Regions from separate parts of the Homo sapiens genome. Here region 1 is linked to region 2. A link means that fine-mapping ties the variant in region 2 to the expression of a gene that starts in the linked region. Tissue or cell type: whole blood. Region 2 holds a variant in brackets; the other region holds the start of a gene. All regions are shown on one strand. Distances are from middle to middle.

Region 1 (9,802 bases), 84 kb after region 2:
TGTTTGTTTATTTATTAGACTGGTTCTGGCACTGTCACCCAGGCTGGAGTGCAATGGCATGATTGTAGCTCACTGCAGCCTGGAACTCCTGGGCTCAAAGGATCTTCCTGCCTCAGCCTCCTGAGTAGCTGGGGCTACAGGCACACATCACCACACTGGGCTAATTTTTTTTTTGAGACAGGGTCTCACTATGTTGCCCATGCTAGTCTCAAACTCCAGGCCTCAAGTAATCCTTGAGCCTCATCTCCCAAAGTGCTGGGATTACAGGCATAAGCTACCATGCCGGGCCCATAGTTTCAATTGTTTACAAAGTGACTCCACCTGTATGTTCCATGGACACATCACAATTATATGTTCACATATCAACTCACTATCTTCCCCTGAGAGCAGCATCTCCACTTGTTATCCCCATTTGGTTCCATTATCCATCAGTTACCAAAGTCATCACTAGATTCCATTATCTCCTGCCTCAGCCCCGAGATTCAATGTCACTCAACCCTATGGTTTCTGTCTCCTTTGCAGTTCTTAAATCCATCTCCTTTCCACCATCCTGCCCCCAGTTTATTTATCTGGGAGGTGGCATCGAGGGAGGAAGAGGGATGTGCATTAGAACAACCTGTGTAATGTTAACCAGAAAACATACAAGCCCAGCGTGGTGGTTCACACCTGTAATCCTAGTGCTTTGGGAGGCAAAGGTGGGATGATCGCTGGAGGCCAGGAGTTTGAGACCAGCCTGGGCAACACAGCAAGACCCCATCTCTACACAAAATTTTAAAAATCACTTGGGCATGATGGTGCATGCCTGTAGTCCCAGCTGCTTGGGAGGCTGAGACAGGAGAATCGTTTGAGCCCAGGGGTTTGAGGTTACAGTGAACTATCATCGCACCACTGCACTCCAGCCTAGATTACAAAGTGAGACCTCTCAAAAAATTAAATAATAAACAAACAACCAGCCGGGCACGGTGGCTCACGCCTGTAATCCCAGCACTTTGGGAGGCTGAGGTGGGTGGATCATGAGGTCAGGAGTTCGAGACCAGCCTGGCCAAGATGGTGAAACCCCGTCCCTACTAAAAATACAAAAAATTAGCTGGGTGTGGTGGCGCACGTCTGTAGTCCCAGCTACTTGGGAGGCTGAGGCAGGAGAATCGCTTGAACCGGGGAGGCGGAGGTTGCAGTGAGCCGAGATCATGCCATTGCACTCCAGCCAGGGCAACAAGAGTGAAACTCCGTCTTCAAAAATAAATAAATAAATAAATAAACAAACAACCATTACATACCCTACCCCATCTCCAGAGATTCTGAACCTGTATATACTCTTCCTCATCTTCACCGTCCTTACCCATTTTCAACACTGCTGGCAGAAAGATCCAATGATCCTTCAAAAATGCAAACTGTCTGTTTAGCCTTTCACTGGGTCTCTAGGATGAAAGTCCAAACTCCTCTCAAACCCGTCACCTTGGGTTCTTGCCCACAGCTTCCACCTCACCTGCGGCCACTCCCTATGGACATCCCGCACTCAACCCTTATCAGATTGCAGCACTTGCTGTTCCTGGAACACGCCTTCTTTCCTCGCCTTAGTGTTCTCTTCTCTGTGGATATCCTCTGTGATACCTTTCCACTTGGTAGTCACTTTGTTCAAAACGCCTCTCCTGACTTCTCTAGGCAATTAGTTATTTCTGTCAGAGGTGTTGGAGCCAGAGCAACTCTATGTTGAATAGAGGCTGAGACCTACTGGGCTGCATTGCCAGGAGGTTAGGGATTCCTAGTCACAGGATGAGATAGGAGGTCAGCACAAGATATAGATCATAAAGACTCAGCGGATGAAACAGGATGTGAAAAAGAAACCAGCCGGCCGGGCGCATTGGCTCAGCAGACGGATCACGAGGCCAGGAGTTCAAGACCAGCCTGGCCAACATGGAGAAACCCAGTCTCTACTAAAAAAAAATACAAATTTAGCCAGGTGTGTTGGACTACTACGCGCCTGTAGTCCTAACTACTCGGGAGGCCAGGAGTTCAAGACCAGCCTGGCCAACATGGAGAAACCCAGTCTCTACTAAAAAAAAATACAAATTTAGCCAGGCGCGTAGGACTACTATGCGCCTGTAGGCCTAACTACTCGGGAGGCTGAGGCAGGAGAATTGCTGGAACCCGGGAGGCGGAGGTTACAGTGAGCCGAGACCGTGCCATTGCACTCCAGCCTGGGTGACAGAGCGAGACTCCATCTCAAAAAAAAAAAGAAACCAGCCAAAACCCACAACAACCAAGATGGTGATGAAGGTGACCTCTAGTTGTTCTCACTGTTTATTGTACGCTAATTATAATGCATTAACATGATAAAAGACACTCCCACCAGTGCCGTGACAGTTTATAAATGGCACAGCAACATCCAGAAGTTACCCTATATAGTCTAAAAGGCAGAGAAATCCTCAGTCCTGGGAAATCCTTGCCCCTTTCCTGGAAAATTCACGAATAACCCTCTCCCTAGTTAGCATGTAATCAAGAAATAGCCATAAAAATAGCCAACAAGGCCGGGCGCAGTGGCTCACGCCTGTAATCCCAGCACTTTGGGAGGCAGGTGGATCACTTGAGATCATGAGTTTGAGACCAGCCTGGCCTACATGGCGAAACCCCATCTCTACTAAAAATAGAAATAAAAAAATTACCTGGGTGAGGTGGCACGCATCTGTAATCCCAGCTACTCTGTGGGCTCAGCAGGAGAATCACTTGAACCTGGGAGGTGGAGGTTGCAGTGAGCCGAGATCGTGCCGTTGCACTCCAGCCTGGGTGACAGAGCGAGACTTCATCTCAATTAAAAAAAAAAAAAAGAAAAAGAAAAAGCCATAAGCAGCCCTCAGTGCTGCTCTGCCTATGGAGTAACCATTCTTTTATTTCTTTACTTCTCTAATAAATTTGGTTTCACTTTATGAGCTCGTCCTGAATTCTTTCTTGTGTAATATTCAAGAACCCTCTTTTGGGGTCTGGATTGGGACCCCTTTCCAGTAACATTTCCTCTTCTCTGGTCCCACAATACTTTGTCCATAAGTGATTCTGTACTTATTAGCAGATAATTACAAGTATTTTTGTTTATACAATGTCTTACCCCCTAAACTGTCAATAGATTTTGTTCAATTTATTTTTGTATGCTCTAATATAGAGCCTGGCACATAATGTGTATTCAACAAATGTTTACTGAATAAATTTTCAAGGGAATAAGTTTTAATTTCTATCTTTCTGATTGCTTAGTGTTTAATATATTATAAAAAATATGATTCAGGCCGAGCGTGGTGGCTCATGCCTGTAATCCCAGCACTTTGGGAGACTGAGGCGAGGGGATCACCTGAGGTCAGGAGTTTGAGACCAGCCTGGACAATATGATGAAACCTTGTCTCTACTAAAAAATACAAAAATTAGCCAGGCGTGGTGGTGTGCGCCTGTAGTCAGAGCTACTCCAGAGGCTGAGGCAGGAGAATGGCTGGAACCCGGGAGGCGGAGGTTGCAGGGAGCCAAGATGACGCCACTGTACTCCAGCCTGGGCAACAGAGCGACAGACTCCATCTCAAATAAATAAATAAAAAAAAAATAAATAATATGATGCACTTTCAGGATAGCATGCTCTTTGAATCTCTTTAAATAGTGACAGTTTATATTTGAACAGTTATTTTTTCATTTTTCAAAGCACTTTTCCCCAACATTTTATTATGAAAATCTCCAAATATATGGGGGAAAAATAATTGTAAGTGAACACTTGTGTCGGGACTCAGAAACTGATAGCCCAAAATATGGGGCTTTGACCGGCTGAATGGAAGCCTCAAGGTCTCTCTGACCTCACTGCCCAGCACCATCTCTCCCAAAGCACAGGATGAAGTTGAAGTTCCTTTATCTGGCTACAATCCGAACCCACCAAAAGGAACAATTGTTTTTTCTTCCCCTCCTTGTAAGACCAAAAATGTAACCACCTGAACAGACCCTTTCACAAGATAATGTGCAAGTTCATCCCTGTGCCCTGATCCATTCACTTTCCCTAGTCATCTCCTCAACAGAATGCCTCTGCTCCCCTCTCCCCAAGTCTGTTGGCCAGGATGGTAGACAAGCTTCTGAACCCCGTTGGGGGTGTGTAATCACTCTGTGATTCTCCCCATGTACATGTTAATAAATGCATATGCCTTTTCTCCCATTAATCTGCCTTTTGTGAGTTGATTTTTCAGCAAACTTCAGAGGGCAAAGGGAACATTTTTCCCATGGTCCCTATACCCATATATACCCACTACCTAGATTCAAAATCAACATTTTGCTATATTTGCAAAACACTTTTCATAGGCTAATTTTATTATCACCTTTTTAAAAAAATTCTTTTTACAAGTACTGCTCCTTGTGGAGCAGGACTACTCGATAGACAGTGTGCCCAGAGTAGCTTATTATCATTTTTTATTTCACCTAATGACTAAGGTATGATTCTATGTTTTATAGATAAGGAAACTGAAACTGAGGCTTTAATGACTTCCAAGGAGCTTGTCTGCCAGAAGTTGTAATCAACTTGTGCCAGCTGATCTGTCCACACCCTCTATCCACAGGTGTTAGATATGTAACCTAGGTCTGAAAAATATTTAGAATATTCTTGTGATGAAAAGCTTGCAATTCCACAACACAGGGGAATCAGCAAAATCATGGGAAAACCAATAGAATACATTTCTAACTCATGAATCATTCAGAGAAAAATCCAGTCTTGGGTTTTCCCTCCCCCTCATCCCATTTCTATTCCTGATTAGTCATCATTTCCTGCCCAGCCTGTCTGAGATGTTTCTTCCATCCTTTCTTTTCCAGTAACAGTAACCTGGTGCGGGTCTACAGTATCTGTTATCTCAGCTGATTTCCTTTCTGCCTTTTCATGAACCAGAGACATGTGATTTCCAATTAAAGCACAGCCCTGACCATGTCTTTGCTCAGCTTACAAAACGTCAACGGCTCGCAGCTATCCACCGAATTAAGCCTACTATAATCCCCTTCCTTCCACACTACAACCTATCCACGCATCTGTCCTCTTACTCCTTAGCTTCCATCTTACATGACTAAGAGTTGTTTCCCCAAATACACCCTTATTTACTTTTTTCATTTATAACTCACCACCACCCCCTCCAAAGTTTCACGTGGGTAAATTCTAGACCTCCACGTCATAGGCCAACTCAAATGCCAATCCTTCTAATGAACCTTCTAGAGAGCCCGGGCCTGTTGTCATCTCTATAGCCAATCTTTGGCATCTTGTGGCAATAATCTCATTCTACCTTGTAGAGCTTTCTGGTCTGACTTCCCTTGCCACCTTCTGCTCCCTTTGCCTAAGTATAACACTTTTGAGGAAAAGAACGCTGTTTTAATCATCGTCGCCTCGCCCACAGGCGGTGCTTTATTGTGCTTAATATCGTTTAACGCATCACACACTGCCGAGGGGGTCGGAGGCGGACGCCTTTTGCTGTATCCACACAGACCCGCGCAGGCACACACGTAGGCCGTCTGCCACTCTGACAGACACGTGTCCCCTGGGCCACAGCCCTGGAACTGTCTCGGGATTCCCAGCCTGTGGGCGCTTCCATGCTGGCCAGCGGAAGGGGACGCTTTTTTCTTCAGAACAGCTCCAACGGATACCTCTTATTTTAGACCGCCTGCGGATTCTATCTATAAATCAGCCTAAGCCCCGCTTCCTTTTAAAACAGGATTACGCCGGGTCGAGGGAGCCTGGCGTGGCCGCGCAGTGGCCGGGTCCCGCGGATTCCCCTCCAGCTCCCGCTTGGTAGCGCCCGCTTTGTCAGCGCGCAGCGCTCGCCGGGCGCCCTGCAGGTCTCGCCAGGTCTCACAGCAGACGGTGCCGACGCAGCGGTGTTGCACCTCCCTCTCCGGCTCTGCTGCCCGGGATTTCCCCAGAACCTGCGCCGCGCGAGAAGGAGCCTGGGAGCATCCGCCCACACTGCCCGGACAGTCGGCTCGACTCGGTGCCCTCGGCCCCAGCCGGGCTCCGCTCCTCGGGCGCGCGAGGGGCCGTGGTGGCGGCGGCGCCCGGCATGTTTCATAGTCCGCGGCGGCTCTGCTCGGCCCTGCTGCAGAGGGACGCGCCCGGCCTGCGCCGCCTGCCCGCCCCAGGGCTGCGCCGCCCGTTGTCCCCGCCGGCTGCTGTTCCCAGGCCCGCATCCCCCCGGCTGCTGGCGGCGGCCTCGGCGGCCTCGGGCGCCGCGAGGTCGTGTTCCCGAACAGGTGAGTGCACCCCAGTTCCGGGCGGAGAACGCCACGGCCGCCAACGCGCGGCCGCCACCTGGAGACCGCGCGGAATGAATGAGAAGCCCGGGGCTGCCGGTCGTGGAGTCTGGCCTGAAAGTGGGTCCTTTACCGGAGCAACCTTCTGCGTTCCCTTTTTCCTCTTTCCCTGTTCCCCGACTTGCCTGGGGCTTGCATCAAAGCTAGTAAGAACTGGGAGACTGTATTCAGGTTCCCGCTTGACCCTTAGAGGCCATGCTTTCAGAATTTCTTGTTCTTGACCGTTAAATTTCCCCCTTCCGAGGCCGCGAGTTACTATGTTGGTTACATTTTTTATTGCACGACTTAACGGAAATTTTTATGGAAAAAAAAATCTAAATGATGCTTATTTGCTTATATAGCTTTCATGGTCTAGATATTAAGTTTTTTTTTTAAGTCGTGATAATAACACATTGATTCGTTTTACGTTGTTTTTTTTTTTTTTTTTTTTTTTTTTTTTTGAGATGGAGTCTCACTGTGTCACCCAGGCTGGAGTCCAGTGGCACGATATCGGCTTACCGCAACCTCCCGCTCCCGGGTTCAAGCGATTCTCCTGCCTCAGCCTCCCGAGTAGCTGGGATTACAGGCGCCAGTCACCACGCCTAGCTAACTTTTGTATATTTAGTAGAGACGGGGGTTTCACCATTTTGGCCAGGCTGGTCTTGAACTCCTGACCTCGTGATCCACCCGCCTCAGCCTCCCAGAGTGCTGGGATCACAGGCGTGAGCCACCGCGCTCGGCCATTTTACGTTTCTTTGGATTTTTTTTTTTTGGAGGCTTCCACTCTTTATAGTTAACATCATTTTTTGTCCTGTGTATCTAAGATCTTGTAAAAGTGAGGCCTTAGTTTCACCAAGAGCTGTTTTCATACATCATAATAACTACCCTGAGTTTTCCTTTTTTGCTACCTCTGTTTCTGCCTGGGCACACATTACCATGGCCACAAATTACATACAAATTAATTATACTTTAAAAATTGATAAATTTTTTCTTTCAAAACTAGGCAATACATAACTTTTTTTTTTTTTTTTTTTGAGACGGAGTTTTGCTCTTATTTCCCAGGCTGGAGTGCAATGGCGCGATCTCGGCTCACCGCAACCTCTGCCTCCCGGGTTCAAGCGATTCTCCTGCCTCAACCTCCCGAGAAGCTGGGATTACAGGCATGCGCCACCGCGCCAGGCTGATTTTTGTATTTTTAGTAGAGATGGGGTTTCTCCATGTTGGTCAGGCTGGCCTCGAACTCCCTAGCTCAGGTGAACCTCCCGCTTTGGCCTCCCAAAGTGCTGGGATTACAGGCGTGAGCCACCGCCCCCCCGGCCTATAAAATTTAAAAAAATAGGCCGGGCGCGGTGGCTCACGCCTGTAATCCAGCACTGTGGGAGGCGGAGGCGGGTAGATCACCCGAGGTCAGGAGTTCGTGACCATCCTGGCCAATGGGCTTGGGCGTGGTGGCACTCGCCTGTAATCCCAGCTACTCTGGAGGCTGAGGCAGGAGAATCACTTGAACCTGGGAGGCGGAGTGTTGCAGTGAGCCGAGATCGCACCATTGCACTCCAGCCTGGGTGACAAGAGTAAAACTCCGTCTCAAAACAAAATTAATAAAAATTTTAAAAAATGTATATATTTTAAAAATGGTCATCTGGAATGTGATTGAAGCCAAGACTTTAAACTATTCGCATTGTTGGCAGATATTTAGGTATTTCCCAATCTAGTATCAAACTCCTGGCCTCGAGTTATCCTCAGACTCTGGAGCAGTTGAGATTTGCAGGTGGAAGCCACCATGCCCAACTTAGTCATTTTAAAATTAGGATGTTGAATTGGTTGCTGGAGATTCTGAACTATATTGTTCCTTAGAGTGAACTTGACAGTTAGATTCCCCACCCCCACCCCCAATTTCGTAGGAATGTGGTACATTGTGAAATAACTGCCAGAATGAGTATATTGCCTGATAACTTTTTTCTTGCTGGAAATTTTAAGAACAACATTGTTAGAGGTTTGAGGTAGGAAAAGTAAAAGAAAACCAGGTGATGTCTTCTGTACCAGCTTATATCTTAAATTCCCTCAAAGTCTCAGAGGCAGGGTTAGTAGGTACCTCCTCATGGGAATACTGTTAGCTTGTGTAAAACATAGATGGCTGTGTTATCTGAGTAATTACTGTTATCTGAGTAATAATATCAGGTCAGATTGGAATGTTGGGCTTTTGACCCAAGAAAGTGTTTAATGAACTTCTTTTAAGAAATCCCCTGAAACCCCCTAGTTTTACAGATAAGGAAATTGAAGGACTTTATGGTACTTAAACTTTTGTAGGCAGTTACTATAAAGTCTAGACAATTTTCCTGTTCATGCATTTTTAGCTTCAGCAGCTTGTTGGAAGAAACATGCCTGCATTGATTCATTCATTGCTTGTTCACTCATTCCAGATCTTTACAGAATGTCTCACACAATGTAGGTGCTTTATTATGGGAGTTAAAAACATGAGCTTTAGTCAGTCCCTAAGGAGTTTACTGCCCAGTAAGAGATGAGATTTGCACAATGAAATGGCTGTTTAATGAAATGAAACACCTTTTATTCTCTTGACTTGGAAATGGCACAAGGGTGCAGGAAAGCAGGAAGTCCCTTTTGGGCTTCTAGAAATGGGTGGCATTTCAGCTGGCTCTTGAAGCATGGTTAGGATTGGAAGAGATTACTATAAAGCGTTTTGTTTGGAAAAAGCAGGAGTAAATGCAGAAAGGCATGAGACACACACAGATGAGGAAGGGTGAGAGAAGAGGCACTTTGCAAAAATGGACATTGTTTTCCAAAGAGCCTCAGACCCAGCACTAAGTGCTTTTTAATTTTAATTTTTATTTTTATTTTTTTTGAGACAAGGTTCTCTCGCACTGTTGCCCAGGATGGAGTGTAGTGGCGCCACCTCTGCTCACTGCAACCTCCACCTCCCAGGCTCAAGCAGTTCTCCTGTCTCAGCCTCCTGAGCAGCTGTGACTACAGGCACACGCCACTGTGCCGGGCTAATTTTTGTATTTAGTAGAGACAGGATTTCAACGTGTTGCCCGGGCTCGTCTCAAACTCCCCAGCTCTGGTGATCCACCTGCTTTGGCCTTCCAAAGTGCTGGGATTACAGGTGTGAGCCACTGCGCCCAGCCTATGAAGTGCTTTTTTAAAATGCAGATTCTTGGATCCTACTGTAGACCTATTAAGTCTGAGTCATTCATGATGGGCCCTGGATTCCACATAACCAAATGAAATGACAAAAAGAATAACTCCAGATTGTTCTTCTATGCCCTCAAATTTGGACATCTGGCACCCATATGTGAGAGAGACATTGAAGGGGCCAAAAGCTCCTCTCCACTCCTGAGCCTTGTGGTGGGGAGTAGTGAGTCCCGACAGCTGTCCACATTTGCTAATCAGTTCCTGCATAACTTATGCCCCTTGGCAATTGGTAGTTATTGGGAAGATAAGTACAGTCCCTTTGGAGTTATCAGATTCCAGGTTGTTAGAATTAAAAGGTGACCCTAGGGATGAT
Region 2 (9,802 bases):
GTATGAGAGAAGAGATGGGCTATGGGTATGGAGCTCAGGACTATCCTTATGGGGAGCAAGCTAGGGCATTTGACATGCAGCCCACACCCACACCCTTCATTGAAGCTATGAGCAAAAATGGGTTAAATTAAATGTCCTAGCCAGCTGGAAATGTATGCACATGTATAGAGAAAGGAGCTGGCTTGCAGAGGGGGCCATGTTATTAGGGAGATAGAAGACTATTGCGGGTTAACTACAAAGAGCTCAGATCCTTTTTCACACCAGCTGGCAGAGTCAGAGTCCCTTTCTTTTCTCCCCAGTGGTCTGATCCCTAAATCATGGCCCAGGCCCAGCTACCAGCAAGAATTCGTATGGTATCTCCACAGAACCAGCTTCCCGGGCTACAACCTACACAGTCCCACAGGCCCTCACTCAGAAGGCCCTGCACTTGATTTCATACTCCATTGTTGCCATCTTAAAATTCCTAATAATTTTATCTTTGAACTTGTGTTTTATAAGTGAAGTCTCATGGGACAAAGGAGAATGAGCGTGAGCAGAGGAGATACAATATGTGTGCATGCGCAGTAACACCATTCCTTGCCTCCCATTCACATATACCACCTGTGATGTCCCATGCAGAGAATTCTGGTGGACCCATGATGCATGAAAGTTCAGTGTAACTCAGTGATAGGTGACCCCCTACCCCACAACCCAGCCAAGAGGCCGTGCTTTCCCTTTGAACCAGTTTAGCTTGAAAGAATCAATACTGTTTAAGCAAAAAGAACAACCAAGGAACCCTACCATATTCTTTCTCACTCATGTTACATCGCTATATTAGCCAACCACACTGAAAAGGACATAGAAGGAAAGGGAAAGATGGGGCAACCCATAGTTCATTTTCCTTTCTCATCAGTTAAGCCAAAGGTAGTGATTTGTTGGTAGAGTGTGTCATATTAAGTCAGATTTTTACATAGACTGGAAAAAGTACAGTGTTTATTGGTCATTTTAAAAACTCTTACAAAACAATAAGAAAAAGATAAACGTTCCAATAAAAAACAGGTTTAGGGCACTAATACGCACATTACAAGAGAACTTCAAATGACCAACATTAAACATTATAAAATGTTTTTAACTTTGCTAATAATTAAAGAAATACAAATAAAAACAACAGTGATCAAAAATTTTCTACTCAGAAGTTTAGAAAAGATGAAAATGAAAATATCAGCACCCAGTACAAACCTAAAGTGGAAAGCAACTGGAAAAGAGCTTGACTACACTGATCAAAATATGAAATGACTCAGCAATAACATTGCCAGGAAACTGCTAAAGAGACATAGGGACATTTATAAAGATGAATATGCAAGGCTGTTCACTATAGCATTGTTTAGCATATCTAAAAATTGAAATAACCTCAATGTTGATCCATAGGTGCTGTGGTCTGAATGTTTGTTTCCTCTCAGCATTCATGTTGAAATTCTGACCCCCAAGGTGATGATATTAGGAGGTGGAGCCTTTGGGAGGTGATCAGACTATGAGGATAGAGCCCTTGTGAATGGGCTTAGTGCCCTTATAAAAAAGGCCTGAGAGAGACCCCTCACTTCTTCCACCATGTGAGGACACAATGAGAAGATATCATCCGCAAACCAGAAAGTGGGTCCTCACCAGATACCAAATTTGTGAGTGTCTTGATCTTGGACTTCCCAGCCTCCAGAAGTGTGGGAAATAAATAAATACATTTATATTGTTTATAGACTATCCAGTTTATAATATTTTATTATAGCAGCCCAAACAGACTAAGACAATAGGGTATACGTTAAATCAATCACAGTACATCTATGTTTGCAGTTGTTAAAAAAGAATTAGATCACTGTCAGGCCTCTGAGCCCAAGCTAAGCCATCATATCCCCTGTGACCTGCACGTACACATCCAGATGACCAGTTCCTGCCTTAACTGATGACATTCCACCACAAAAGAAGTGAAAATGGCCTGTTCCTGCTTTAACTGATGACATTGTCTTGTGAAATTCCTTCTCCTGGCTCATCCTGGCTCAAAAGCTCCCCCACTGAGTACCTTGTGACCCCCCACTCCTGCCCGCCAGAGAACCCCCCTTTTTCCTTTACCTACCCAAATCCTATAAAACGGCCCCACCCCTATCTCCCTTCACTGACTCTCTTTTCGGACTCAGCCCACCTGCACCCAGGTGAAGTAAACAGCTTTATTGCTCACACAAATCCTGCTTGGTGGTCTTTTCACACAGACGTGCATGAAATTTGGTGCCGTGACTCGGATCGGGGGACCTCCCTTGGGAGATCAATCCTCTGTCCTCCTGTTCTTTGCTTGGTGAGAAAGATCCACCTACGACCTCAGGTCCTCAGACCAACCAGCCCAAGAAACATCTCACCAATTTTAAATCAGGTAAGCGGCCTCTTCTTACTCTCTTCTCCAACCTCTCTCACTATCCCTCAACCACTTTCTCCTTTCCACTCTTCAATCTCTCCCTTCTCTTAATTTCAATTCCTTTCATTTTCTGGCAGAGACAAAGGAGACAGGTTTTATCTGTGGACCCAAAACTCCGGTGCCGGTCACGGACTAGGGAAGGCAGCCTTCCCTTGGTGTTTAATCATTGCAGGGACGCCTCTCTGATTATTCACCCAGGTTTCAGAGGTGTCAGACCACGCAGGGACACCTGCCTTGGTCCTTCACCCTTAGCGGCAAGTCCCGCTTTTCTGGGGAAGGGGCAAGTACCCCAACCCCTTCTCTCCGTGTCTCTACCCCTTCTCCACCTTTCTGGGGGGGCAAGAAACCCCCAACCCCTTCTCCTTCACCCTTAGCAGCAAGTCCTGCTTTTCTGGGGGAGGGGCAAGTACCCCAACCTCATATCTCTGTGTCCCAATCCCTTATTTCTGCACCCCGACCTCTTATCTCTGTGCCCCAATCCCTTATTTCCATGCCCCGACCCCTTATATCTCTTTGCCCTGATCCCTTATTTCCGCACCCCAACCTCTTATATTCTCTGCACCCCAATCCCTTATGTCCATGCCCTGACCTCGTATTTCTGTGCCCCGACCCCTTTCCCACTTTTCTGGAGGGTAAGAACCCCTGAACCCCTTCCCCCCGTGTCTCTACTCTCTTTTCTCTGGGCTTGCCTCCTTCACTATGGGCAACCTTCCACCCTCCATTCCTCCTTCTTTTCCCTTAGCCTGTGTTCTTAAGAACTTAAAACCGCTTCAACTCTCACTTGACCTAAAATCTAAGCATCTTATTTTCTTCTGCATTGCCACTTGACCCCAATACAAACTCGACAGTAGTTCCAAATAGCCAGAAAACGGCACTTTGAATTTTTCCATCCTGCAAGATCTAAATAATTCTTATCGTAAAGTAGGCAAACAGTCTGAGGTGCCTGACGTCCAGGCATTCTTTTACACATCGGTCCCTTCCTAGTCTCTGTGCCCAATGCAACTCGTCCCAAATCTTCCTTCTTTCCCTCCCACCTGCCCCCCTCAGTCCCAACCCCAAGCATCGCTGAGTCTTTCTAATCTTCCTTTTCTACAGACCCATCTGACCTCCCCTCCTCCCCAGGCTGCTCCTCGCCAGGCGGAGCTAGGTCCCAATTCTTCCTCAGCCTCTGCTCCTCCACCCTATAATCCTTTTATCACCTCCCCTCCTCATACCCGGTCCGGCTTACAGTTTCATTTGACTAGCCACCCCCCGACCTGCCCAGCAATTTACTCTTAAAAAGGTGGCTGGAGCTAAAGGCATAGTCAAGGTTAATGCTCCTTTTTCTTTATCCCAAATCAGATAGCGTTTAGGCTCTTTTTCATCAAATATAAAAATCCAGCCCAGTTCATGACTCCTTTGGCAACAACCCTGAGACAGTTTACAGCCCTAGACCCTAAAAGGTCAAAAGGCCGTCTTATTCTCAAAATACGTTTTATTACCCAATCTGCTCCTGACATTAAATAAAACTCCAAAAATTAAATTCCGGCCCTCAAACCCCACAACAGGATTTAATTAGCCTCACCTTCAAGGTGTACAATAATAGAAAACAGTTGCAATTCCTTGCCTCCACTGTGAGACAAACCCCAGCCACATCTCCAGCACACAAGAACTTCCAAACACCTGAACCGCAGCAGCCAGGCGTTCCTCCAGAACCTCCTCCCCCAGTAGCTTGCTACAAGTGCCAGAAATCTGGCCACCAGGCCAAGGAATGCCTGCAGCCCAGGATTCCTCCTAAGCCGCTTCCCATCTGTGCAGGACCCCACTGGAAATTGGACTGTCCAACTCACCTGGCAGCCACTCCCAGAGCCCCTGGAACTCTGGCCCAAGGCTCTCTGACTCCTTCCCAGATCTTCTTGGCTTAGCAGCTGAAGACTGACGCTGCCTGATCACCTCAGAAGCCCCCTAGATCATCACGGACGCCGAGCTTTGGGTAACTCTCACAGTGGAGGGTAAGTACTTCCCCTTCTTAATACGGAGGCTACTCACTCCACATTACCTTATTTTCAAGGGCCGGTTTCCCTTGCCTCCATAACTGTTGTGGGTATTGACAGCCAGGCTTCTAAACCTCTTAAAACTCCCCAACTCTGGTGCCAACTTAGACAACACTCTTTTAAGCACTCCTTTTTAGTTATCCCCACCTGCCCAGTTCCCTTATTAGGCCGAGACACTTTAACTAAATTATCTGCTTCCCTGACTATTCCTGGACTACAGCTGCATCTCATTGCCGCCCTTCTTCCCAATCCAAAGCCTCCTTTGCGTCCTCCTCTTGTATCCCCCAACTTTAACCCACAAGTATAAGATACCTCTACTCCCTCCTTGGTGACCCATCATGCACCCCTTACCATCTCATTAAAACCTAATCACCCCTACCCCGCTCAATGCCAATATCCCATCCCACAGCATGCTTTAAAAGGATTAAAGCCTATTATCAATCACCTGCTACAGCATGGCCTTTTAAAGCCTATAAACTCTCCTTACAATTCCCCCATTTTACCTGTCCTAGAACCAGACAAGACTTACAGGTTACTTCAGGATCTGCGCCTTATCAACCAAATTGTTTTGCCTATCCACCCCGTGGTGCCAAACCCATATACTCTCCTATCCTCAATACCTCCCTCTACAACCCATTATTCTGTTCTGGATCTCAAATATGCTTTCTTTACTATTCCTCTGCACCCTTTATCCCAGCCTCTCTTTGCTTTCACTTGGACTGACCCTGACGCCCATTAGGCTCAGCAAATTACCTGGGCTGTACTGCCGCAAGGCTTCACAGACAGCCCCCATTACTTCAGTCAAGCCCAAATTTCATCCTCATCTGTTACCTATCTCGGCATAATTCTCATAAAAACACATGTGCTCTGCCTGCTGATCGTGTCCGACTAATCGCCCAAACCTCAATCCCTTACAAAACAACAACTCCTTTCCTTCCTAGGCACAGTTAGTGCGGTCAGAATTCTTACACAAGAGCCAGGAC[T/C]GCACCCTGTAGCCTTTCTGTCCAAACAACTTGACCTTACTGTTTTAGCCTAGCCATCATATCTCAGTGCAGCGGCTGCTGCCGCCCTAATACTTTTAGAGGCCCTCAAAATCACAAACTATGCTCAACTTACTCTCTACATTTCTCATAACTTCCAAAATCTATTTTCTTCCTCATACCTGACGCATATACTTTCTGCTCCCCAGCTCCTTCAGCTGTACTCACTCTTTGTTAAGTTCCACAATTACCATTGTTCCTGGCCGGGACTTCAATCCGGCCTCCCACATTATTCCTGATACCACACCTGGCCCTCATGACTGCATCTCTCTGATCCACCTGACGTTCACCCCATTTCCCCGCATTTCCTTCTTCCCTGTTTCTCACCCTGATCGCACTTAGTTTATTGATGGCAGTTCCACCAGGCCTAATCGCCACACACCAGCAAAGGCAGGCTATGCTATAGTACAAGTCACTAGCCCGCCTCTTAAAACCTCTCATTTCCTTTCCATCGTGGAAATCTATCCTCAAGGAAATAACTTCTCAGTGTTCCATCTGCTATTCTACTACTCCTCAAGGATTATTCAGGCCCCCCTCCCTTCCCTACACTTCAAGCTCGAGGATTTGCCCCCACCCAGGACTGGCAAATTAGCTTTACTCAACATGCCCCGAGTCAGATAACTAAAATACCTCTTAGTCTAGGTAGACACTTACACTGGATAGGTAGAGTCCTTTCCTACAGGGTCTGAGAAGGCCACCACAGTCATTTCTTCCCTTCTGTCAGACATAATTCCTCAGTTTAGCCTTCCCACCTCTATACAGTCTGATAACAGATCAGCCTTTATTAGTCAAATCAGCCAAGCAGTTTTTCAGGTGTTAGTATTCAGTGAAACCTTTATATCCCTTACAGTCCTCAGTCTTCAGGAAAAGTAGAACAGACTAATGGTCTTTTAAAAACACACCTCACCAAGCTCAGCCACCAACTTAAAAAGGACTGGACAATACTTTTACCACTTTCGCTTCTCAGAATTAAGGCCTGTCCTCGGAATGCTACAAGGTACAGCCCACTTGAGCTCCTTTTTATTAGGCCCCAGTCTCATTCCAGACACTAGACCAACTTGGACTGTGCCCCAAAAACTTGTCATCCCTACTGTCTTCTGTCTAGTCCTACTTCTATTCACCGTTCTCAACTACTCATACATGCCCTGCTCTTGTTTACACTGCCAGTTTACACTGTTTCTCCAAGCCAGCACAGCTGATATCTCCTGGTGTTATCCCCAAACCACCGCTCTTAACTCTTGAAGTAAATAAATAATTTTTGCTGGCAGGACTATGATGAATCTCCTAAGGCACTCTAATTATATGTCCTAGGTCCTCCCAATTCTTAGTCCTTTAATACCTGCTTTTCTCCTCTTATTCCATTTACTTTTTCAATTCATACAAAACCGTATCCAGGCCATCACCAATAATTCTACATGACAAGTGTTTCTTCTAACAACCCCACAATATCACCCCTTACCACAAGATCTCCCTTCAGCTTAATCTCTCCCACTCTAGGTTCCCACGCCACCCCTAATCCTGCTCGAAGTAGCCCTGAGAAACATCGCCCATTATCTCTCCATACCATCCCCCAAAATTTTCGCTGTCCAAACACTTTACCACTATTTCATTTTATTTTTCTTATTAATATAAGAAGACAGGAATGTCAGGCCTCTGAGCCCAAGCTAAGCCATCATATCCCCTGTGACCTGCACGTACACATCCAGATGACCAGTTCCTGCCTTAACTGATGACATTCCACCACAAAAGAAGTGAAAATGGCCTGTTCCTGCTTTAACTGATGACATTGTCTTGTGAAATTCCTTCTCCTGGCTCATCCTGGCTCAAAAGCTCCCCCACTGAGTTCCTTGTGACCCCCCACTCCTGCCCACCAGAGAACAACCCCCCTTTTTCCTTTACCTACCCAAATCCTATAAAACAGCCCCACCCCATCTCCCTTCGCTGACTCTCTTTTCGGACTCAGCCCACCTGCACCCAGGTGAAATAAACAGCTTTATTGCTCACACAAAGCCTGTTTGGTGGTCTCTTCACACGGATGCGCATGAAATTCACTTTATATCCACTGACCTGGAAAATGTACACAATACAGTGTAAAACTTTTTAAAGCAAATTATAGAAGATAAAATGATCGCATCTGGGAAAATATGTGTGTACATTTTTTTTTTTTTACTAGTCCTGTCTCATCCTAGGGAGATCATAAAGTTACCTTTGGGAGGTAGAATTAATTGGGGACAAGAATGAATAAATGAGATGACTTTTCACTTCATGCCTTCTGCAATGTTTAGGAAAAAAACATTTCAGAGCATGTCTTTCTGATAATTTGTTTTAAAAAATCACATTAAGATAAAATCATTTACTGCACATTGACCGGGCACGGTGGCTCATGCCTGTAATCCCAGCACTTTGGGAGGCCAAGATGGGCAGATCACGAGGTCAGGAGATCAAGACCATCCTGGCTAACATGGTGAAACCCCGTCTCTACTAAAAATACAAAAAATTAGCCGGGCGTGGTGGTGGGCACCTGTAGTCCCAGCTACTTGGGAGGCTGAGGCAGGAGAATTGCTGGAACCCAGGAGGCAGAGGTCGCAGTGAGCCGAGATCGCACCACTGCACTCCAGCCTGGGCGACAGAGCGAGACTCCATCTCAAAAAAAAAAAAAAAGAAAAAAACATTTACTGCACATCTGTACAATGAATATTAAGTGACCATTAAAAATGATGATGTTGGCCAGGGGCATGCCCCAAGCTCGTAATCTCAGCACTTTGGGAGGTCAAAGCAGGCAGATCTCTTGAGCTCAGGAATTCAAGACCAGCCTGGGCAACATGGTAAAACTATCTCTACAAAAAAACAGAAAACAGCCAGGCAAGGTGGCACACGCCTGTGGTCCCAGTTACTTGAGGGGATGAGAAGGGAAGATGGCTTGACCCCGGGAGGTCCAGGCTCCAGTGAGCCATGTTTGCACCACTGCACTCCAGCCTGGGTGACAAAGTGAGACTCCATCTCAAAAACAGAAAAGGTTAATGCCGTAATCTATACATATTGACCTCAAAATGTGGCCACAACATATATTTCTGAAAAAAAGAAAAGAGGTTACTGAACAATATATGTAAGACAAACACGTTTGCATAAAATTCTGCATCTGTTGAGAGAACAGTGTCAGCTGTCTGAAAAGATGTTCCTCAAATATTGATAGTAGTTATTGCTGGGTAGTGTTACTTTTAGTGATTTTTACTTTCTTTATACTTTTCTGTGCTATGTAATTTTTTTTACAATGAGTGTATAACCTTTTTCTAAATCAGAAAAAAAATCTATTTCTATTTTGAAAGTTTTAATATGTGCTAGGAAAATAAGAAGAGTAAGAACGTTTCACAAAATGAATAAAAAGTAATTTCTTCCTGATTCCCAGTAGTATCTCTAAAGTCAGCACCAATAAGGATCATAACTTAGAACTGCATATTTTCTGAGTTGAATCTTTTTGCCCCAATTTTGCTAACTATACTAAAAACAGTATTTCAAATTCCCCCCACCACAGAGAAAATACAAGTTCATCCCTAATCTATTCAGCAAATTCAACCCCAACCAGGGGTTTCTTCCTAAACTAATTTATTCTTAACTTTTTCATTTATCTCCCAAGCACTATGTTTGATGTTTAAAAAGAAAAAGCACTGACTTGACCTAATATTAGTACTACATGAATGTGCAGGTTTATTTTCCCAATTTTGTCCTGATGGCAGTAATTATTTCAGAACCTTGCTAAGTCTTACTTGCTTATCAGTCTTTCCAATAATTCTTACCAGCAAAACTGGCAGTTTTATCCTTCTTTTCAACAGAGATTTAGAGGCCAAGAACTATAGTGAATTCTCACCTGACAAAGCGTTTATTGCCTTTTTCAAAATATACTGCAGGACGTTTATTAGTAGACTATGAAGTATTTATCACCAGTAATTAAAAATAAGCTGTACTTGTTGGAATAAATGCAGAGTCAGAGATGCAATACTATTACTTTTTATTGTTTATTTGCTCTTCTTTTAACCTAATATAAAAATTCCTTTACTAACGTGCTAAGGCATTTATCTTAAGGCTGATGTTAAACAAACCTGTTTGCATTTTACTAAGCAGACAAGGAAAGCATCAGAAGTCACTATAAAAAGATTTCTAAGGCAACAGTGAGAAGATCCAGGAATGTTTGTGCACTGCTAGTAGAAATAAAGGCAAATTGACCTTTAAAAGATAAGAAGGTAATCTGCAACATAGAGCAACCACGTTCTCATCCTTTAACCTAAAAATTCCAC

The links.
Region 1: NOCT starts here. The variant in region 2 is fine-mapped to the expression of NOCT in whole blood (INTERVAL, PIP above 0.99).

The regions. Positions count from the first base shown.
Region 1 is chr4:139,009,932-139,019,733 of GRCh38, forward strand. It overlaps NOCT (nocturnin), which reads left to right and starts at 5,850. Exons shown (of 3, transcript NM_012118.4): 1 at 5,850-6,240. The coding sequence starts at 6,051. LOC105377448 (a long non-coding RNA gene) reads right to left here and starts at 2,715. Exons shown (of 3, transcript NR_133945.1): 1 at 2,664-2,715. RefSeq lists enhancers at 4,210-5,409, 4,546-5,467, 5,500-5,849 and a silencer at 5,990-6,289.
Region 2 is chr4:138,925,989-138,935,790 of GRCh38, forward strand. All of the region lies in intron 2 of LOC105377448 (a long non-coding RNA gene), which reads right to left. Among named protein-coding and RNA genes, the nearest start is that of NOCT, 85 kb to the right of the region's middle. RefSeq lists an enhancer at 6,974-7,528. The variant T/C (reference allele first, on the strand shown) is at 5,454.